Homo sapiens: one gene and its partner. The protein of the gene in region 1 interacts with the protein of each later gene in a pairwise test. Each region holds a gene or a part of one and is shown on either strand. Other genes may lie near its edges.

Evidence for each region. Proteins that work in one complex are often made in the same cells at the same time.
Region 2: the proteins of ZBED1 (region 1) and LRRC20 interact in binary tests that used the Homo sapiens proteins (3 or more experiments, as listed by UniProt).

The regions. Positions count from the first base shown.
Region 1 is NC_000023.11:2,494,430-2,498,083, reverse strand, and holds part of ZBED1 (E3 SUMO-protein ligase ZBED1), read left to right. Parts: intron 1-3,654.
Region 2 is NC_000010.11:70,337,547-70,341,200, reverse strand, and holds part of LRRC20 (leucine-rich repeat-containing protein 20), read left to right. Parts: intron 1-498; coding exon 499-648; intron 649-3,654.

The DNA.
Region 1 (3,654 bases):
AAAAACAAGATAATTACAAATTAATCATAGATGTTGGTCATGCCTTTACAGAGGGGGTTTAGAAGCAAATTGAGAATTCCCATAAGAGGGTCTGTCTCTGTGTTCTTAAGACTATATCCATGCGGCCCATTCAGTAAGTTGTATCTGTTGGTTGGATTTTAAAATAGATGATTTAATCAGTGCATTTAATATCCTAATATGGCATCAAAACTTGAACATTGATATGGCCTGAAATCTGTTGAAAATGATCATATTGAGTAAAGAAAGTCTCTACCCACCGGTATTAATAACAGGGTGATCTGTTTAGAAATTACATTTTCTCTGATACATCAATGAGTTTTGCAAAGGAGAGAAAATTGATGGTACCTGTAGTCAAGTCCAGTTCCAATACTGCCACAGAATTTTTCTTAAAAGTTCTATTGTAAATAATAGGCCACAGAATATTCCTTCACTTTCTGGGATGCAAAATGGATTCGTAAATGCTGTACCACAGGAGTGAGTATTTACAAAAAATATGCCAACTGGCCCACTTACAAAGCTATTTATAGAAGTCCTACTTTTCAAACTATTTTTTTTTTAACCTGTAAAGGGAAAGTTAATTCTTGTTGGTTTTATGAGTAGTGAACAGTGGCTATTAGAAATCAGGTAGAAGTAAAAACAGCAGTTTTCCAACTTCTTCTTCTTTTTCTTGAGACCAAGTTTCGCTTTTGTTTCCCAGGCTGGAGTGCAATGGCGTGATCTCAGCTCACCACAACCTCTGCCTCCCGGGTTCAAGCGATTCTCCTGCCTCAGCCTCCCGAGTAGCTGGGATTACAGGCATGTGCCACCATGCCTGGCTCATTTTGTATTTTTAGTGAGATGGGGTTTCTCCATGTTGGTCAGGCTGGTCTCAAACTCCTGACCTCAGGTGATAGTCCACCTTGGCATCCCAAATTGCTGGGATTACAGGGGTGAGCCCCTGCCCCCGGCCTCCAATTCCTTGATCATAGAATCTCTTTCAAAAAAAATGAGGACCCCAGACAGTTTTTGTTTTTGTGGATTATAACAGTCAATAAGTCATCCTGTTAGACATTAAAACAGAAATTTAAAACATATTTAACAATCTATTTAAAAGTAATGGTAACAGGCCAATTACATGTTACATACAAAAATGTATGTAATATATTTATTGTTTTTATATTTTATTTTTATTAAATATATATATTTTTAGAATAATTTATACTTTTCTATAAATATAAAATACAAATAAGTTATATTTATATAATTTAGATGTAAATAAAAACAATTGATATTTTTATATAAATATATAAATGTGTACACTTATGGGGCACAGTGTGATGCTTTGCTGTATGTTTGCATTGTGGAATAATTAAACTAATATCTATCACCCGCTATTTTTCCTTTGCGGTGGGAACATTTAAAATCTCTTTTAGCTATTTTTGTTTTTTATTTCCATAGGTTATTGGGGAACAGGTGGTGTTTGATTCCATGAGTAAGTTTTTTAGTGGTGATTTGTGAGATTCTGGTGCACCCATCACCCAAGCAGTATACACTGCACGCAAGACATTTAAAATCTCTATTGGCGGGCCGGGTGCGGTGGCTCATGCCTATAATCCCAGCACTTTGGGAGGCTGAGGCGGGTGGATTGCCTGAGCTCAGGAGTTTGAGACCAGTCTGGGCAATACAGTGGAACCCCATCTCTACTAAAATACAAAAAATTAGCTGGGTGTGGCAGTGTGCGCCTGTAGTCCCAGCTACTTGGGAGGCTGAGGCAGGAGAATGGTGTGAACCTGGGAGGTGGAGGTTGCAGTCAGCCAAGATTGCGCCACTGCACTCAAGCCTGGGCAACAGGGCGAGACTCCGTCTCAAAAAAACCAAAAAAACAAAAAAACAAAAACAAAAATAAAAACCTCTTTTAGCTATTTTGAAATATGTAATACACTATTAACTATCGCCACCACGCTGTGCAGTAGGTCACTGAAACGGATTCCTCCTGTCGAACAGAAACTTGGTACCCTTTGGCCATGTGCTGTATGTTTTTTAAAAGAAAAATGATTGTCATTTCCAAAATAACAAAAACCTAGGGAGAAGAGTGGCTGAGTTTTAGGGTTTTGTCAGTCTCATCCATAAAGGGACGGATGGCGGCTGGCTCCTTCCTCTGCTTCTTCACACTGGTCTCTTGCGACGTGTCGTTCTGGTAAGAGTCATGTGAGGCACATCCACTGGCCTCTCATGGATGTGCAATTGGAAACGTGAAATCGCCGGCCCCCTGAGAGCGTTTTGGGGAGTGTCCCCCCCAAACCCCCCTCCCCCCGCACTGGGGATGCTGCACCAGTCTTGAAGAATGAGGCAGTGAGAGGCTGGTTTACAGCAACCTTTATTCGTGGCCTTGTGTGCTCGGAAGCGCTGCAAGGGAGGAGGAAGGAGGAAGGAGGGTACTCACTGCAGAAGGTCAGCTCTGCTGTGGCTGTTACGTGGGTTCAGGTGGAACCCACCTACTGTGTGGACGGTTCTTTACCTGGGAATCCCATGGAATTCTGACAGCAGGAGACGTGGGAGGGAGCTTCTTGTTTCTCCTTCCAGGAGTCACTTGGTTAGGGGTTTGGGAATTTTGGCTCTTAGTACAAAACTTCACTCCAGGTACTAGACCTGTTTCAGCCAAATGATGATCATCATAATAGAATAGAAACCTTTGTTCACCTAAATAATAACAATAATATTAATAATAATAGAATATAAACCTTTGTTCATGGTACTGGGGCGTCTTTCAGCCCAATAATAATAACAACAATAGGAATAATGATAATAATGATAAAATATAAACCTTTGCTTCACGTCCTGGAACGTCTTTCAGCCAAATAATAATAATAATATTAATGATAATAGAATATAAACCTTTGTTCAGGGTACTGTGACTTCTTTCAGCCCAGTAATAATAATAATAATAGTAATAATGATAATAATGATAGAATATAAACCTTTGCTTCATCTCCTGGAACGTCTTTCAGCCAAATAATAACAATAATAATAATAATGACAATAGAATATAAACCTTTGTTCAGGGTACTGTGACCTCTTTCAGCCCAGTAATAATAATAACAGTAGTAATAATGATAATAATGATAGAATATAAACCTTTGCTCCAGGTCCTGGGAGCTCTTTCAGCCAAATAAGAATAATAATAGAATATAAACCTTTGTTCACAGTACCAGGACCTCTTTCAGACCAACAATAATGACAGTAATAATAATTATAATGATAATAGAATATAAACTTTTCTTCTAGGTACTGGGACCTCTTTCAACCAAATAATAATAGTGGAATATAAAACTTGGCTCTAGGTACCAGAACCTTTTTTCAGCCAAATAGTAATAATAAGAATAGTATTAATAGAAAACAGACCTTTGGTCCAGGTACTGGGACACCTGTGAGCCAAATAATAATAATAATGATAATAATAGAACATAAACCTTTGACTGAAGTGCCAGAACCTTTTTCAGCTAAATAATAATAATAAAATATAAACTTTTGTTCCAGGTACCCGGACTTCTTTCAGCCTAATAATAATCATAGAATATAAACCTTTACTACAGGTCCTGGCACCTTTCTCAGCCAAATAGTAATAAAATAGAATATAAACTTTTGTTCTGTTAC
Region 2 (3,654 bases), on another chromosome or scaffold:
CCCAACTGCTGCTTGTACGAGGCTTGCCTTCAGCGTGACAGGACTAGGAAGAAGATCAAACCATAAAGTCTGTGTGAATTGCCTGTTTTCAAAGAAGTAGACTATTGTAAAGCAGTCTTTAGACTGCATCTGCGCTGTCGAGTCTTTGATGATTCTAAAGGGACTTGTGGATTCTGCAGGATCTCAAAGGCACTGCTATGAATGCCAGTCATCTTTGTGCCGGCAGACACGATTCTGGCTAGTAGGCTGTGGTAACAGAGATGGTGCTAACACAAATCCTTAGGTTCAGGGTGCAAGGGAGGGACAGGTGTGAGTTAATGCCTATGAGGAGGGCTCCTGGAAGAGGGAGGGCAGGGTCTGAAGCCTGGTCCTGGGGAGACAGGTGGGAGGGCAAGGAGGCTGGAAGGGGGCATGGAGGTGGGGTCTGTGTGAGTCTGGGACAAGTTCTCGGGCAGCTGTGGCTGATAACTCTGGTTTGTTTTTGTTCTTTGGCTGCAGACCTGGCCGAGTGCAAGCTGGTCTCCTTTCCCATTGGCATCTACAAGGTCCTGCGGAATGTCTCTGGCCAGATCCACCTCATCACCCTGGCTAACAACGAGCTTAAGTCCCTCACCAGCAAGTTCATGACCACATTCAGTCAGCTCCGAGGTAGGCCCTGGTCAGCTCCAGCCAGGAGGGCATGGCCAGCTCTCATCGTTCAGGCTCTGACCCTGTCTGGGGAGTGCCACCAGAGCTGGTCCCTGGTCAGCGACACCCATGAAATCATTCCCATGGGTTGACTTTGAAAATGGACCTGTGTTCTCCCTGCAGCTTGGAACTCTCTAGGTCACTTCTGCCTCTAGCTGGCTGTGAAGCAGATTGAACAAGGATCAAGGGTGTGGTTCCTGGAGTGATTCTCTTGTTCTGAACAGACCAGCAGGGTGTTTGGGTCCTGAGGCCCTGGGAGTTGTTATTTCCCAGTAGTCTTGAATGAGCCCCCTTCTCACCTTCCAATCTAGTGTTGTTCTCCTGTGTTGCTCTCTCAGTTCAGGAGTGACAGATGCCAGGGATGTTGGCATTTTCTTTTCTTTTTTTTTTTTTGAGATGGAATCTTGCTGTATCGCCCAGGCTGGAGTGCAGCGGTGTGATCTCGGCTCACTGCAGCCTCCACCTCCCAGGTTCAAGCGATTCTCCTGCCTCAGCCTCCCAAGTAGCTGGGATTACAGGTGTGTGCCACCACACCTGGGTCATTTTAATATTTTTAATAGAGGTGGGGTTTTACCATGTTGGCCAAGCTGGTCTCAAACTCCTGACCTCAGGTGATCTGCCCGCCTCAGTCTCCCAAAGCGCTGGGATTACAGGTATGAGCCACCATGCCTGGCCGATGTTGGCATTTTCTCTGCTGGGCATATTCAGAGCATGTGGTTGTAGGTGCTTGCCATCAAGGTGGCAGGAGTCCAGCAGGTGAGCCTCGTAGATGCTCTAGAAATGGTTCCTCTGGATGGACAAGCAGTGTGGCCTGACTGCTGCAGTGCCTGCCCTCTTCTCCAGAGAGCAGTCTCTCCATCCTTCTACGAGAGGTCACTGCTGCTCAGTGACCCATGTGACAGAGCTGTGGCATGGGCGCCTGTTGTACGTTTGTGAACGAGTGGAGTGGGAGAATTGCGGAGGGCACAGGAAGCCTAGGGGGGCAGATCCTGCTTCATCCCAGACTCACATGGACCCCAACTCCATGCCCCCCTTCCAGCCTCCTTGCGCTCTCACCTGCCTGCCCTGGAGACCAGGCTTCAGAGCCTGCCCTCTGTCTTCCAGGAGCCTTCCTCACAGGCATTAACTCACACCTGTCTCTCCCTTGCACCTTGAACTTAAGGATTTGTAACAGCACCATCTCTGTTGCCACAGCCTCCTAGCCAGAATTGTGTCTGCTGGTACAAAGACGACCAGCATTCATAGCAGTGCCCTTGAGACTTTGAAGAATCCACAAGTCCCTTTGGAATCATCAAAGACTCAACAGCGAAGATGCAGTTTAAAGAGTGCTTCACAATAGTCTACTTCTTTGAAAACAGGCATTTCACACAGACTTTCTTCCTAGTCCTGTCACACTGAAGGCAAGCCTCATACAAGCAGCAGCTGGGAAGCTGCTGTGTAGACAGGTCAAGCAGTTCCTCAAATGGTTAAACACAGAGCACAGAGTTACCATATGACCCAGTCACTCCCCTCCTACGTATATACCCAAGAGGTGTAAAAACATATGTCCACGTTGCCAGGTGCAGTGGCTCACGCCTGTAATCCCAGCACTTTGGGAGGCTGAGGCAGGTGGATCCCCTGAGGTCAGGAGTTCAAGATCAGCCTGACCAACATGGCGAAACTCTGTCTCTACTAAAAATACAAAAATTAGCCGGGTGTGGTGGCGCACACCTGTAATCCCAACTACTTGGGAGGCTGATGCAGGAGAATCGCTTGAACCCGGAAGGTGGAGGTTGCAGTGAGCTGCGATCGTGCCACTGCACTCCAGCCTGGGTGACAGAGCAAGACTATGTCTCAAAAAAACAAAACAAACAAACAAACAAAAACCAAAAAAACAAAACCATACATCCATGCAAAAACACATTACACGTGGATGTTCATGGCAGCATTATTCATAACAGCCTGAAAGCTGGAAAGTGGAAACAACCCAAATGTCTATCAACTGGGAAATGGATCCACAGAATGTGGTCTCCCCATGAAAGGGAATATCATCTAGGATCTAGGAATGCTCTACGTGATAGGGATATGAAAAGGGTCTAAGATCCTGTTTAGAGAAAGAAATACATGAAATGCTGATGATGCATGAGGGACCCGAGCAAGCCTATCTCATAGGGCTGACTTTAGGCTAGGCAAGCTTCCTAGAGGAGGTGTGGGCATTGGGCAGGCCAGGAGGGAGAGGGTGCATGAAGTGGCAAACACAGTGCAGGGACAGTGGCTCAGGAGGGAGCTACAGGCAGGACTTGGAAAGGCCACCATGCAAACAGAAGGACAAGGAGGAGGGATTAGTCTACATAGCTGTTTCTGAGTGAAGCTCACAGAGTTTGTTGCATTTGTGCCTGAAAAGCTAAAATCCCTATGACTTGGAGGACAGGGAGAGGCTCCTAGAGCAGGATTTCCAGGTCTGGAACTTTCCAGGCCACCTGTGTTTGTCCCAGGGTCCTCTAGTGCTGTACTCAGCCAATTGGGATTGGATGTTTGCTTTCCCGAGGAGGATAGAATGATTGAAAATGGAGGGTGGGGCTGTCCGGGCCCTCAGAAAGGGCACAGTCAGGCCCTTTGGGTAAGAGGAGAGTTCACTTGTGCTTTTACTTCATTAGACCTTCCCTTGAACACCTGCGTCTCCCAGACCTAGGTCCGGAGGCCCAGAAACAAAGGCCAATCCACCAGGGTCTCCCCCTGAGGAGACCAGGGTTGCAGGACACATTGTCCTCACCACCCAGTGCTGTGATACGGGTATGGACAAAATGCTGGAAGGGACTGCTGGGAAGAGGAATGAATTCTTCCTGAGAGTGGCATGGGAAGGGCCTGGGTATGGATGCAAGAGCTTTGAAACTGCTTGACATCTGGGGAGAGCCTTGTGGGATGAGTAAGTAGGCCCTCCCCAGAGGGCATGGGGAAAGGTGCCAGAGAAATGCTACTTAGCCCATG